Linked DNA regions of Homo sapiens: region 2 is linked to region 1. The links come from fine-mapping of genetic effects on gene expression. A gene starts in region 1. The other region holds a variant in brackets. All regions are shown on one strand. Distances are between the middles of the regions. Region 1 holds the start of LINC00997 (long intergenic non-protein coding RNA 997). Region 2 has its middle 87 kb from the start of MIR550A2.

Region 1 (8,349 bases):
TGTGACTAAATAAATCTTACTTTACTAACGTAAGTCCAAGATAACTATTCAAGCTCATCACTCTCACTGTCCCTTCACGTGGTCATCGTGCCCACCTACGAGGTATCCAAAGCCAAAAGCCCATCCCCATTTAGAACCTTTTTGGCTCCCATGACTCTCTTTTCCATTTGGCTTGTCTATTACCCTGGCTATTATTTACACACTAAAGTTCATTCTTTGAGTTCATGAGAGAACAGTTTCTGGGGTCTTTAAATTTTAAGAGAGGAACTTATGATATTCTGCTCAACTATAAGGATACACACAACTAATAAACGTGAAAGGTCCCCTCCCTTTCTTAAAAAGATTGTGCTTACTATTTTTATCTGATAAAGAGGATCACTCTATAAATATATTATTTGTCTCAAATTATGACTCACCTCTGGATAAAGATGGAAGCATTTTACTGCATTAATTCCAAGAGGATTTCAGTAAGCCTGTCATTCATTATCGTCCCCAGTCCTTCCAAAAATGAAGGTGCTTCAATATTGGTCTCGAAGTAGGAATAAAAGTCCCTTTAAAAAAAAAAAAAAAAAAAGAAGGCACATGTTGTCAATGTAATTAAAACTTTAAAATATTTATTTTTATCACTTCTTTAGAACATTTTTTTCTGAAAAAAAAGGTCAATAATAAGACTTCCTAATTACGCCTCGCTATTTTGCATTCTTGGACTTTAAAAAGCACGTATTTTCAGGTGATCACTGTACTATTCTTTCAAGTTTTCTATAGGCTTTCAAACTAAAGAGTTGGAGGGATGGTCGAATGATTTAAAGAGTTTCTCTAATAATGTCTTAAAATGTGTAGACAGTATATGTTCAATTTTCCCAAATCTGGTTTTATCCCCCACATTTGAGATGCTTGAAGGTTGACATCTGATTAATTCTGTCATAAACAGGGATGCCTTCATGCCTCTGTACAACTTTGCATATAGAAAATTACTTCTTTTTTTCCCATGCTCTTAGGAAATAAAATATAATGACCATAAGCATCATGAGCAAGGAATCCAGTGCTTCTAGCTTAATTCATAGCTCCATCTAATCCTCTGTGCTAAGTGAAAGCTCAATGTTGATTGACTATTGTTGCTCACAAATACTATGTACTAAAAAGCAGATTATTTTAGTGTCTTACACTTCAGCATATAAAATAAAGGCTTCATTAGGATAGTAAAAGTGCTGTTGAGTTAAAATTCATGGATTAACAATAGCATGTTATGTCTTATTTCCCCATCAATTTCTTGCTTTCGCTCCTAAAATCTAAAAGCAAAAAAGGGCCACATTGTTTAAAATGCATTCTCCCTAAAAAATGCTATATGCTATAATCATATCTGCCTCATCCAACACGAGTAACTACTAAATTAAACGTCTGTTTTAGCTGATGTCTGAAAGGCCATTACCTCATAGTTGATTGGCAAAATATGAGTTCATAAAGAATTTTCCTTTCTGCTTAGGAGGATAAAGCAATACAATAATTAAAGGATATCTAATATGCAAAAGTCTATATTTAGGGAAATATTAAATATTCTCTTTAAAATGTTCAAATGTCATACATATGTTAATGTATCCAATGCTTTGAAACTTTATAGGGGCAATATAGGGATGAAAATTAAAAAGCAGTGACGGAGGGGCCTGGCATAGGCAAAATCATAGAGATAGAAAATAGAGCTGAGTGTGATTAGTGTTTAGTGGGTGGAGTTTCTGTTTGGGATAGCAAAAAGTTCTGGATGTGGACAGTGGTAATAGTTGCAAGACAACACGAATGTACTTAATGTCACTGAATTGTACGCTTAAATGATAACCATTGACATTTTTCTATTACAAACTTAAATCTAAATTTCACCATAATTTAAACAAAAAGCAATGGCTAGAGTGAGGAGAGTCAGCTTCAATGCTTCAGTAGGCCCCCGACCAGCTGGGAGCAGATCTGGAAGATGGACGGTTGTGGTGTCTTCTAAATGTAAAATTGCACAATTTTGGTATTCGCTATCCCATTTACTCCTCACAATAATTATGTGAGATGTGTATGGCAGAAAACTCCATTTTAAAGATTAAGTATCGAAAAACAGAAAAATATTTAAAAATTATATCAAAAGTCATCTCTTAAAAGAGATTATCTTGAAATCAAAAGAGAACCAAATAATAATCATCATCAGTAAAAGACCCAGTAAAACATGGGACCTCCCAACTGTAGCCAAAGAAAAAGCAATTTCTGATAACATCTCATTTCATTCCCCTTTATCACTTCTTCAGTGCTTTCTTTGTCCTCCTTCCTCAGCTACTATAATTCATCTTCATTATCTTAAAAAGAAGTCTGCATTAGGAAAGGGTGAGAGATAATGAAGTAACAGAAAAATAATCTCAAACACTTTACTATTTAAATAATAAACCTGGGTTATAGCTTATGAAACAGTGCAATGAAGTATCATATTACAATAAGAACAAGTTTCAAAACCAACATTAAAATAAGCGATAAGTAAGAAAGCCATAAAAAAGGAAACAATAAATTGTTATAATATTGTTTTTATAATTTGCTTACTAACTCGTATGTTTTTAGGCATTTATAATGCAGTATGGCACACACCTGAAATTCCTTAACTCAGTGGTTTTTAAACTTAATTGTTGCCGGGTGCGTTGGCTCATGCCTGTAATCCCAGCACTTTGGGAGCCCGAGGCGGGCAGATCACTTGAGGTCAGGAGTTTGAGACCAGCCTGGCCAACATGGTGAAACCCTGTCTCTACTAAAAATACAAAAATTAGCCAGCCATGGTAGTGCATGTCTGTAATCCTGGCTGCTAGGGAGGCTGAGGCAGAAGAATTGCTTGAACCCAGCAGGCGGAGGTTGCAGTGAGCAGAGATCATGCCACTGCACTCCAGCCTGGGCGACAGAGTAAGACTCTGTCTCAAAAAAAAAAAACCAACTTAATTGTATATCTAAAATTCTTGTGGCTTGTTTCACCCTTCCTTCCATCCCAGGCCTCTAAATCAGAACAGAGGCAGGTTAGTGTTTGTTTTTTAAGTTTCAAGTGATTCTAATGTACCAGCCTTGGGAAATACCTCCGTAACTGTTGAAAAGGGTTCAGAATATAATTTTAAATAAAATTACTTTAGATCAAAACAGACTTACAATAAGTATAATATCACATAAAGGATCAACTTTCAAGCGCCAAAGAATACAGGTGTGTACTTGAAGACCTTTTAGTAGTGAAACTCAGCAGCTGTAGGCAGTGAAGAAAGGAGCATATGTGATAAACAAAATTAGCTGTGGTCAACAATTATGCTATAGCTAACTTATGTAGTCAGTACTTTCCAGTGAAGTTGAAAATAAAGCAAAGTTCCATGTATTAACCCTGTTTTCCACTAACCCTTCTTTACATGTAGGACATATGCCAGGGTACCAAAAACTGCAGGAATATTCCCTAGCATTGCAGCCTCAGTTCTAATACCAAAATCTCCCTGCAGACTAAATGTCTAGAGCAGCACTGTATCAATAGAACATAGGGGCAGATCTCATACCTTCCAAGGGTAGAAATCGCTGAGCACAGGTAAAAATAAAATATTCCAGAGGGAAATATTATTTTACAAATTTTTATAAACACTTTTGTAAAATAATGTACACAGCCTTGCACACTGAAAGAGTCAAAGCCATTTAACTCTGTATAACCACTGCAGAATCTTTATCTTCTTTTTTACCTGACTTCCAATTGGCGGGTGTTACTAAAACTTTATCACCAAAGTTATTTCACTAGCTGAGCGTGGTGGCTCATGCCTGTAATCCCAACACTTTGGGAGGCCAAGGCAGGTGGATCATTTGAGGCCAGGAGTTTGACACCAACCTGGCCAACACGGTGAAACCTCATCTCCACTAAAAATACAACAAATTGGCTGGGTGTGGTGGCGCATACCTGTAATCCCAGCTACTCAGAAGGCTGAGGCACGAGAATCACTTGAGCCTGGGAGGCATAGGTTGCAATGAGTCAAGATCGCGCCACTGCACTCCAGCCTGGGAGACAGAGCAAGACTGTCTCAAAAAAAAAAAAAAAAGTTATTTCACTAGCAACATATAATTACCATAAAACAAAGGAGGGTTTTAAATGAACTACACATGCAAAATACACTAGAAAAGCTAGATATTTTTAAAAACGTGGTGAATTATTTGGTAAAGCCAAAATATTTTAATTCATAAGTTACTATTCCCCCAATGCATCTATTTTGTAAATGCTGTTTCACATATGAGGTTTGTAAAAAAGCAAAATATATGTATAAAATGGCGTACATAAAGATGTTCTACAAATATAGCCAGAAGTTATTGTTTTACTGTATGCAAAGAGTGATGGCAATTTTTAATTCAAATGTTTTTAAATATTTCGAACTGAAACTAAATCTTACCAATGTAAAATTGCCACAAAGACGGCTGGAAAAGAGAAAAGTTATTAAAAGCTGCTTTATTATAAAATACCATTAAAACAAGTATTTCAAATGTATTATTTTACATGTCTAGAAAAGATAGCACAGAAAGCAAGATGGCCAGCTAATCCTGTCTCTATGAGCATAGGAAAAAATCCAGGACACAAAGTAAATTCTGAACAGAGCTTACCTCTCTGCAGCAGGGCTTGACAAGCAAAGGGAGAGACTTGAGAGGGTTTTTTTACTTCAGTTAATTGGTAGGAGTGATGGAATTATGGAATATTGTGACCTTTTTTGTTTTTTTTTCTTTTTAGTATTCTATTCCTTTATATGAAATTTTTTAAAGAAGTAAATATATACAGTATGCTTCAGCTCGTTCTAACCAAGAGGTGCCACTCTAGATCAGTTTCTCTAGCATTCATCAGAAGACGATTAAATGCAGGCAATCACTTCCTCAGCAGCACATCTAAAAGCCCCATTGTGCAACTCAACCCTTGATGAATTGCAAGCTCTTTGCAAGCGCCCAGACTTAGGAACTACTAGATGGCCTAGGAGACTTATCTGGAGGCACCTGTGCCAGCACCCCATGTATACGTAAGACTTCACCAGGGAGCTGGGAGACACTGCTCTGGGTATGGAGCTTTTACCAGAGCTGCAAACGCAGCCTGTGCCCCTGTTTCGTTGGGGAATTGCTTGTTTTCAAGGGTACCATGGAGCTGGAGAGAGAAAAGTGGGGAATAGAACAAGTTAAAACACCACAGACTTTGCTGTTCTTATAGAGGTTCAGCAGCTTTTCTTGAATTAATGCCCTTTAGATTGTTGTAAACCTTTGGTTAACTTCCAAAGTTTTGAAGAAAATGATTTTGATAATTTTCCAAGTATTTTCATTGTCATCATGGAGGAGTGCATTTCCTTGGCTATTCCAGAAGTCCTACCTCCCTTCTGAGATTTTATAATGGTATTTCTTATGGTTATCCCAAATATACTTGGCAAGTCGTCTTATAAACCACCAATAATAGCCTCTTAAAAATTCAAAAATTACTCCTCTTGGCTAACAAAATAAATGCAAATTAATTTAATAATTGTTGAAGAAATTAAATTTTTTAAAATTAAAAAATTGCAATGTTGAAATTCTCAACCATGCTTATCCAGACCTTTTCCTATACTACTAACTGCCCTGGGCTTATCTTAAATACTTCTCAGAAGATTTACTTGTTTTACACCAGGATAGGCAAAGTATGGCCCACAGTGTATTTTTGGACTGTCTGCAAGCACAGTTGCTATAATTTTTAAAAGGCTGAAAACTTTAAATTTTTGTAAATATGCTCATTAACTGTTTATTAGGCTTCATTAATTTTAAAATATACAGAGACTATCCTATTCAACTATATTTGTATCCTATTTCTAATTCTCCTAACAATTATATACACTGGCAAAAACTCTTCAGATGATATATAAGGAAAAGGTCAAATATACTACCGAATTCATCCAGCTTTCCAAAGATGCTCAAAATCTTTCTGTGTCTCTCACTCCCTCCCTTAACCCACATACCACATCTGAAAAAAAATGATATGGTGTAACGATGCCAGTATTCTAAATGCTTGAAGGGCTTATCACATGCCCTTTCCAAGCTGTGACAGAAGCATGTCCCTTGGACCCCGGCATCCTGTCAATCTCACCTCTGAAGGTGACCCAGTCTCATACTTCACTGAAACAAAGACCATTAGACGCCAGCACTCCCGACTTCTTTTATCTCCACTTTAACATTTCTCCATATAGTAATCCTCACTTTTCTACTCCCTGTCATCTCAGAAAAGGAATTCTCTCTCCTCTTTTCCACAGTTAGCTTCTCAAATTTGTGCCTTTAATTCTACCCCTCCCAAATATTCCAAGACTTGCTCCACTAATTATTTCCTCTCTTGGAATCTTAATCTCATCCTCTTCCCTTGATCCCTCCCCTCAGCCTTTAAAACTCCTAGACCTTAAAACACTCTCTGTGATCTGACAGCCCTTCAAACCAATATACTCCCCATCTCTCTCCCCTGGTTCAATGGCAAGATCTTTGGCCAACTGCTTTCTACTCGGACCTTGCTATTATTTGCTACTAGGCACCCACAAACCGTTGCTTGTTAAACTGATCTCCTTCAAGACTTAAGAAAAGCGCCATGCGGCTCCCTCCCAGGGCTCTCCTGCCCTCTCCTCACCGATGCCAAGAGTGGTCCTGCTGGAGAACTGCCGCGCCTGCAGTTCGTGCACCTTTTCCCGAAGCTGCGCCAGGAAATTATGGACGAACTGGAAGGGGCCGAGAAGAAGGGTCTTGGCCCCCAACTGTAGCTCCAAGCCTTTTTGTGCTTTCAGATTTCGGATCCTCCGCGTGGAGCACCTTGGGGCGCCCCTTGGCAGGTTCCCGCCGCATAGGGCCGACTTTTCCACCTCTGGCTCCAGGGCGGGAAGATTGTAGCGGCTTTGAGCTTACTACTTGTTTTCTTATAATCCCTGGCGGAGCTGGGTCAATTTCAGGCACAGCCCAGCTCAGTCAGGCGAGGTCCAGAAAGGCCTGACTTGCCTGGCAGCCTCAACGGACTTGTCCCCGCAGCCCTTGCGGACCTCCTGGTCGTCATGGCGACTGTGAAATGTGGGGTGGGGAGCATGCGTTCGAAGCCATTTGCGCGGGCAGTCCCTGCGTGTCCCCCCACGTGCTCCCCAGCACTCGCAGGACCCCCGCCTCCGAGCTTCCCTGAGCGTGCAGCTTCCAGTGAGGGCAGCCCCACGCACAGCCCCCCACACCCTCCCCAACGCCTTCAGCCCCCGGTGCGCGTAGTCCCCAAGCCCACACGTGCACTCTCCACCTTGCGGCAGCTGCACGTACAGCCCCCCACACGCTCCCAGCCCCACTGGCGCAGAACCCATCACCGCTCGCCCTTCACGCGCTTCACTGGGAGTGCAGCCCCCACCCCGAGCGCGCAGCTCCACGCAGCCTCTCCACACTCTCCCCAGCGCCTGCAGCACCCCCAGTGCGCACAGCTCTGCCAGTCGCTTCCCCGCGTGCCGCCCCTGCACCACTTCGGGCCATAACCTTGCTGGCGACTAAGTCTGAAGAACTTCCCGTGATTTAATTCTTTTCTTCGAGTTTAGTCTTAGCTTTGACATTTTAACCAAAAGGTTACACGTTAATTTATGGTATGAGGTCACCACTTCTCCTATTGTCCTTCTCAGTTTCTCCCCAACCTCTCCTATTCCCTATTTTATAAGACAGGAGAAAAGGGAGAAAGCAAAAAGTTAGAAAGAAACAGAAGTAAGATAAATAGCTGGAGGACCTTGGCACCACCACCTGGCCCTGGTGGCTAAAATAATAATAATATTATTAACCCCTGACCAAAACTATTGGTGTTATGTGTAAATTCCAGACACTGTATGAGAAAGTACTGTAAAACTTTTTGTTCTGTTAGCTGATGTATGTAGCCCCCAGTCACGTTTTTCACGCTTACTTGATCTATTATGACTTTTTCACGTAGACCCCTTAGAGTTGTAAGCCCTTAAAAGGCCTAGGAATTTCTTTTTCGGGGAGCTCCGCTCTTAAGACACGAGTCTGCCGACGCTCCCGGCCGAATAAAAAACCTCTTCCTTCTTTAATCTGGTGTCTGAGGAGTTTTGTCTGCGACTCGTCCTGCCACAAATTAACGAAGTATTAAAGGGGAAGATCTCAGCTGAAAGAAATGACTGTAGGAAGTGTGTCAGGAAAGCCAACGGACCCGCAGGCCCGCCCGTGGTGCCCGCGGCATTAGGAACGTCTCTGCTCTCCTACGATCGCTGGGGTATCGGACAGTCAGTGCCCGCTGTCAATGCGGAGGGAACGGGCCGAGACTGCGGGCAACACGTGGCAGAGCCGGCCTGAGTCCGGTGGGTCTGATCC
Region 2 (8,349 bases), 110 kb before region 1:
TTCCTCTGATGAGTCTGGACAAATGAAATTTAAATCTTCTGGAATGGATTAACTATTTCAGATACCATTAAAATCATTCTGATTCATGAGAGGAGGTCAAAATGTCATCATTAATAGGACTTTGGAAGAAGTTTATTTCAACTCTCATGGGAGACTTAGATGGGCTCAAGACTTCCGTGGAGGAAGTAACTGCAGATGTGATGGAAATGGCAAGATAACTAGAAATGGAGACTGAAGATGTGACTGAACTGCTGTAATCTCATGATAAAACTTAAAGGATAAGGAGTTGCTTCTTAAATGAGCAAAGGGAATGGTTTCTTGAAACGGGATCTACTACTGGTGAAGATACTGTAAACACTGTTGAAATGACAACAAAGAATTTAGAACATGACATAAACTTAGTTGCTAAAGCAGTGGCAGGGTTTGAGAGGACTGACTCCAATTTTGAAAGCTCTACTGTGGGTAAAATGCTATCAAACAGCATCACATGCTACAGGGGAATCTTTCATGAAAGAAAAAATCAATCGATGCAGCAAATTTCATCGTTACCTTAAGAAATTGCCACAGCTATCCCAATCTTCAGCAACCCCTCTGTCAGCAGTTGTCAACATCAAGGCAAGACCCTCCATCTGAACAACTTGCTGAAGGTTCAGATGATCGTTGGCAGTTTGTTTGTTTGTTTATTTTGAGACGGAGTTTCATTCTGCCACCCAGGCTGGAGTGCAGCTGTGCAATTTCGGCTCACTGCAGCCTCTGCCTCCTGGGTTCAAGCGATTCTCCTGCCACAACCTCCCAAGTAGCTAGGACTATAGGCACCCGCCACCACACTTGGCTAATTTTTTTTGTATTTTTAATAGAGAAAGCGTTTCACCATGTTGACCAGGCTGGTCTCAAACTCCTGACCTCAGGCGATCCGCCTGCCTCAGCCTCCCAAAATGCTGGGATTAGCAACTTATTTTTAAATTAAGGTATGTACATTGTTTTTTAGACATAATGCTATTTCACACTTAATAGACTATAGTACAGTGTAAACATAACTTTGATATGCACTGGAAAACCAAAAAATTTGTTATGACTTGATTTATTACGATATTCACTTTACAATATCTCTGAAGTATGCCTGTATGATCAAAATTTGCAAAGTCATCAGTCTGTACAAAAACAAGTATTCAAACAAGCAAGTATTCAAACTATGCAATGTACAATTTGAGAATTTTCTTCATATGGACGGTTCCCCCACATTTGTTACCCACATTCAATGACGTTATCATTCCTCCGAAATTCGTTGCATTTAATAGCTGAAGTCACTCAGTTCAACAAAACTGAATTACATCCTCTGAAAGTAGGGACAAGAAAACCCAATTACAGGACTGTAATGAAGGGCAAGGTCTTCTCCCTCCAAAGTTCTGAGTATATGAATTCAAATGTCCATGAAAGTGCTTTCTATTGTTTCTCCAATAACACAATGTGTTTTACTAGATCTGGTACAAACATAATTGCCATTCCAGATAATCTCATATAATCTGAAAATAGTGAAGAGATTTGGTTTAGTCATGCCTTACGTTTCAACAAATAAATATTTTTTCTTTATCTCTAATTTTAAATGCAAAATAAAAAGTGTGACAGTTTAAAATGCCAATGCTTTTTAAAGGCATTATTTTGAAATTTGAGAATTAAAGGAAATATACATGTGAACTGCTTCAAAAAAGGCTTATACAAATGTATGTTGTCTCTAAGTACAAGAAATCCATTTATTGTGAAAATAAATTCAATAAAAATCTCATGTTTCAAACTGCTAACACCTAGTATATAATTTTTATCACACATTTCATAACACTGATTATATTGCAACATAATACTGTGTAGATATTAACAAGAGGCTTTTCTTTTCTGCTTAATAATTTTTAATCAATCACTCAAGAATCAATAACTAAGGAATCTCAAAAATAGCTTAATTTTCCAATCTCTATTTTCAAACTATTAACTTATAATATTGGAAATACAGCATGATCTAATTGATTTATCTTCATAACTTCAAAATAAATAGAACACCTGACTAGTGAGTTATAAATTGTGGTTAATATTAGTATCAAACAGATCATGTTTAAGATTTATTCCAAGAGTTTTTACTAGAGTTGCTATTTGCTGGATCAATCCTAACTTGTTACTATAATGTTTAGGTTTAAAACAAATTACCCACCTCTGACTGCTGCTTTTCTATATTGATTACACTATTGCTCCATATTGCTTAATATTAACTATAATAAGGCTTTAAACACTATATTTATGAGTGCTTCCTTAAAAGACTGCTGGCACCATGAAGGTTATGCTACCTCTCTTCAGAGAATGTTACAGGTGTTAAGAATCCTGCTATCCACATAGTAACCATAAGAATGCTAGGTTTAAGAGACATGGCTTGAATATCTCCTGTTTGATGCTACTTAGGGCAGTCCCATTATTTAGGAAGACCCTTAGTTTGGAGTAGGCTTTGTGCATCTCAGGGCACTGTATCTTGATAACAGGTAAGCCTGGTTGCTTTCTTGGAGTTTTGGTCTATTTTTGTACCATACACAGGTTGAGTATTTCTCATCCAAAATGCTGGGACTAGAAGTGTTTTAGATTTCAGAGTTTTTCAAATTTTGGAATATTTGCATTTTACTTACTAACTGAGCATCTCTAGTCCAAAAAACCAAAATCTGAAATGCTCCAGTGAGAATTTCCTTTGAGAGTCACGTTGGCGTTCAAAAAGTTTTGGACTTTTCAAGTATTTCAGACTTCAGATTTTCAGATTACAGATGCACAGCCCGTACTGATAAGCTGCTCAATTAACCAGTTACATATTTCAATCTGAACTTATAATACAATTTTGGCTCACACAGGGTTTAATGTGTCAGTGATACGTAAATGCTATTTTAAACTTTACTATCTTTATAAAGAATTTCAGCTGGTTGTATGACAGAAAACATTGATCTTTTTGTCTCTGAAAATCTAAGATATCAGTATATCCTATCCTAAATTTACAAAAAACCTCTGTGAAAGCAGTCAACTTTGTTGAAAAAGCGGTGAGTACACCTCCATGTTTCCATCCATTGTTGCAATGACTCGAACTTGACCATTGCTTATTCATCTAAAATAGAAAATATATCTGGCAAGATGTTATCAGTATCAACTCTACCACCTTTATCATGTGGTTATAAACTACACTGCTCAAGGTTATCAACATAACCAAAATTCTGACTATAAAATGAAAGCATTAGCCAAGATATAAAGGCAATATAAATAGAAACAGAAACAAATGATTCAAATTGCACTATCAAAATGATAATACAATGTGGAGAAATAAAAACAATTCAGGTTGCTTCTAAATTGTTTAACTTTTATATTCTGACTATACCTCCTTAGTAGAATATACTCTTAGGAGAAAAATAAGTAGAGAAATACTGAACCATACTTTGTAGGATTGTTATTGGTAATGACATTAGTGTAGTAACTCTGAAACTATTTTGTGTGTATTACAGAATAATTTGTTTCTGGAACCTTTTTGTGTTTGAAAGGAAGTGTTTGTCTGAACACAATGAGATATATCAAAAGGGCAGAAAAGAGTGCCAAAATCATAAAATATCTAGAGATTAATAAAATATGTGCAAAACATAAAACATTGCTAAGAGAAATTAAAGGAGACGAATATAAATCTATGTTTATGGATTGGAAGATTTAGTATGTTCAGGAATGTCCATTCTAAATTAACCTAGAGATCTAATACACAACCAGCAGGTTGTGTATGTGTTGAAAGAGATGGGAGTAGTGACAAGCTGATTCTAAAATTTATATGGAAACACAAAGGACCTGGAACAGCTATGGCAATACTGACGAAAAACAAGGTTAGAGATCTTCATTATCAGATATCGAACTTATAAACTACAATATTTAAGGCAGTGTGGTACTGGCTTGAAGATAAACGGACAAATAGAACATAATGGAGAGTGTAGAAATAAATCCAAAAATATATAGTCACTTTATTTATGACACAAGGCCCACTACAATTCAGCGGGGAAAGAATTTTCTTTTTAACAAATGGTACTGGGTTAACTGGACATCCTATTTGGGGTGGGGTAGGGGAGGAAGAAATCTGGAACTTATTTCATACTGTATACAAGATTCTAGACAGATTATAAACCAAAATGTGAAAGCTACACCAAGATTTTCCCTTATATTTTCTTCAAGCTTCTAAAAGAAAATACGAGAAAATCTTTATGACCTACAGTAGGCAAAGACTTTTTAATCAGACACAAAAAAGACTACACATAAGAGATTGCTAAATGGAACTTCATGAAAATTAAGAACTTCATCAAAAAACCTCAAAAAGATCTGTGTACAAAAAGATACAATCACAAAATCCAAAAAGATGAAAAGGCAGGTCATAAGTGGTGAGAAGGTACTTGTAGAACATATATTCTACAAACAACTCCATGGAATTGACAAAGAGTTCCCATATATGAATAAAATAAC[T/C]CAAATATTTGTTAATGGGTGAAGACTCAGATAGGTATTAAAGAAAAGAGAATATCTAAATCAGATAAGCCATATTAAGAGGTACTCAATATCATTACTCATCAGGAAAATGCAAACTAAACCCATAATAAGGTACCATTTCACTCATCAGAATGACTATAATTAAGAGGACTGCCAATGCCAAGCACTGACAAGGATATACTGATAGAAGAAACTGGAATTCTCATACATTGCCAATGGGAGTGAAAACTGGTACAAGCACTTTGGAAAACAATGTGGATATATATCACAGACATATGTTGAGAGAAAGACATCGGACATAAGAAAATATGATTCCACTATATGAAACCACCAAATAGGCAAAACTAATCAATAGTGATAGAGATAGAAGAGTGGCTACCTCTTTTGAAGGATGGAGAAGGATACAGATTGGACAGGAACAGAGGTGAGCCTGCTTGGGGGCTGGAAATAGTCTATACATTGATCTAGTTCCTGGATACAAGACTGTATACATATGTAAAGATCCACTGAACAGTTAAAATATGCAAATCTTAATGTATGAAAATTATATATAATTAAAATGTGGGGAGACTACTACCGGCTAAATGTGTGACAATGAGAACATCAAAAAGATTTGCAACAGATTATAAAACATTGAATAAATTTTAAAAAAACCTATGCATATATAGTAAAAGAAAATGGCGGGACAGGGGATTTGTCTTTACAGAACACCATTAAATGTAGATTAAATGGCAGAATTAGAAAATTACCATTTGCAATGGCTAATGTAATAACTAATTCAGGCAAGTATCATCAATGGATGCATAATCAGTTGGTAAATGTTATAGAGGAAGAGGGTATTGGTGTCTCAAAGTATCATCCCACATTTCACTTATTAAAAGGAAAAAGGGCATTTTTATAATAGAGAAATATGACACCACCACTTAACTGTGTGATTTAATTTAGTAAATTCGATTATGGGACAAATTGGTTTTATGTGCCTCCAGATGTAATGCAAAGAAAAGGACACAACATCATATGTGCCATATTCTTCATTAAAATGTCCAATCTGGCTGGACATAATGGCTTAAGCCTATAATCCCAACACTTTGGGAGGCCGAGGCAGGCAGATTATTTGAGGCCAGGAGTTCAAGACCAGCCTGGCCAACATGGTGAAACCCTGTCTCTAATGAAAGTATAAAAATTAGCTGGGTGTGGTGGCACATGCCTGTAATCCCAGCTACTCGGGAGGCTGAGGCACAAGAATCGCTTGAACCAGGGAGGGAGAGGCTACAGTGAGCCAAAACTGTGCCACTGCACTCCAGCCTGAGCAACAGAGTGAGACCCTACCTCAAAATAAAATAAAATAAAATGGTCTAATCCGAATCTATTAATGAAGAAACGATCAGGCAAGTCCAAAATGTCAGACCTCTACAAAATAATTAGTTCAGACTCCTCAAAAATGTTAATGCCATGAAAAAAAAAGAGACTGAGATAAACTTTTCTAAATAAAATGACAACTAAATGCAATGTACAATCCTTAATCAGATTCTGGATCCAAAATAAAAGCATCAAAGAATTTATAGGACTAAACTATGTAAATAAGAATATGGGCTGTATTAAGATATTATTATATAATTATTAGTGTGAAATTTCTCAAGTATGATAACAGTATTGTGATTATGTAGGAGAATGTCTTGCTTTTAGGCAATATATACTGAAGTATTTAGGGGTGAGATCTCATCATATCTGTAGCTCATTTTCAAACGGATTAGAAAAATGTCTGTGTCGGTGTTTGTATAAGAGAGACAGCAAATGTGTCAAAATATTAAAACTAGTAAATGAAACTGAATCTAGAGCATTTCTGTAAGTTTCAATTTGCTCAAAATAAAAAGCCGGAGAAAAAACAGTAGAGAAAAATGTACTTTTCTTGTACTGCCTTTTTAGTACAAGATTTACAGGGGAACTAGACATAGCCCAGGTGAAGATAATAAAACAGTTGTTGGCTCTACCTTCACACCTGAGAACAACTGCGTAATTTATGTAAGGATCTGCCACAGGCAGAGAGTCTTTGCTGGAACCAAACAGCTTCTAACAATATAAACAAGAATCTGAAAAAGCTACAAACACAAAAATGAATATTTTTTGTGACAGCCACCCCTCCCCCAACCTGGGACACACATAAACATACACACACATGAATCTGGCAGATAAAGAGGAGTAGGGGAAAGTCAGAACTCTGTGAGATCACAATCTCACACAGCGCTTAGGTTCCAGGGTCTTGCCACGGCTGAATCTGGAGATGGATTAAAATTAACTAAAAAGCTGAAAACTAACCCCTTCCCAGTTTAAAGAGTGGTAAGATCAAAGGAATCCCAAGTTGAGCATCTGGAAAGTTGGGGACTGAGACAAAGAAAAAAGAGATCACTGTAGTTCATTTGAAACTGGAAGTAAACTAAAACAAATTAAAACTATACTACTGCCCTGCTTGGCAGGGCTTCATGTGGGATCCAAATTCTCAGTCTCTCTTCCTAGGTGCTTGACATAAAAGAAGATGTTCCCTTTCTAGGGAAATTGAGGCAAAAATGATTATCTAGTTCAATCTTTATTATTCTTTTACAGAAGTTGTCTTGCATAAAATAAAAAGCTATGAGACATGCAAAGTAGCAGGAAAACATGATCCACAATCGAGAGAAAAAAACAGTCAATGGAGTTAAATTCCCAGATAATGTAGGTGTTGGCATTAGAAGACAGACTTTAAAATAACTATGATAATTAGATTTTAAAATGTATAGAAAAATATTAGTGAGATGAATGAAGAGATAGGAAATTTCAACAGAAAAATGGAGGCTCTAGGAAAAAAATGGAAATTCTAAGAAGTAACGAAGGAAGAAAGGGAAAGAGAGAGGGAGAGAGGGAGGGAGGGAAGGAGGGAAGAAAGAAAGGCAAGAAGGGAGGAAGGCAGAGAGGGAGGGAGGGAATTTACCAGAGAGTGATAATAGCAGACTGCATGCATCAGAATAAAGCATCCATCAACTCCTAGACATGGCAAGAGAAAATACTCAAAGCGAGGAATAGAGAGAAAAAAAATGGGGAAAAAAAAAAAAACAGTGTCAAAAATCTGTGATAGTATTTTTAAAAAGTTGAACATACATGTAATTAGGATCCCCAAAGAAGAAGAGAGAAAGAATGGGGAAAATAAAGTATTTAAAAAGAAGATCTTGGCTAGAAATTTTCCAAAACTGATTAAAAATAAAAACTAACCCACAAAACAAAAGCGTTCAATGAACAAAGCACATCTAGGTTCACCACCATCAACCAATAAAAAACAAATATATAATGAAAATTCTCAAACAACAGAGAAAAGACACATTACATTCAGAGGAACAACAACAAAAATTATAGCTGACTTCTTATAAAACGGTAGAAACCAGAAGATAATGGAATGGCATCTTTAAAGTGCTGAAAGGTAAAGCTATCAACCTATAATTCTTATGCAGCAAACATATACTTCAAAAATGAAGGCAAGATAACATTTTTAGACAGACAAAAACTAAGGGACTTATTGGGATATCTTTATCACAATGCTAAATAAAATTCTTAAAACTAAAGAGAAATTATGTCAGATGGAAATCCAGATCTGCAGGAAGAAATTAAGAACACCATTGAGATGCAAACTGAAATGCTCAGTTGTGAAGGATAACCGGGAGTTAATTAGGCAGAGGTCAAGATGAGGGGCACAGAGGCATATACAAAGCATAGGAAACAGCATGTGCAAAGGCCCTGAGGAAGGAAAAGGAATAGTCCTTTCCAGGAACTGGAGAAAGAAGGGCCAATAGG

Evidence for each region. PIP is the estimated chance that this variant, and not a neighbour inherited with it, causes the effect.
Region 2: its variant is the best candidate, but not a certain one, in a credible set for the expression of LINC00997 in whole blood (INTERVAL, PIP 0.58).

The regions. Positions count from the first base shown.
Region 1 is chr7:32,754,858-32,763,206 of GRCh38, forward strand. LINC00997 (long intergenic non-protein coding RNA 997) reads left to right here and starts at 3,429. Exons shown (of 1, transcript NR_036501.1): 1 at 3,429-8,067.
Region 2 is chr7:32,642,252-32,650,600 of GRCh38, forward strand. It overlaps the pseudogene DPY19L1P1. Among named protein-coding and RNA genes, the nearest start is that of MIR550A2, 87 kb to the right of the region's middle. The variant T/C (reference allele first, on the strand shown) is at 4,510.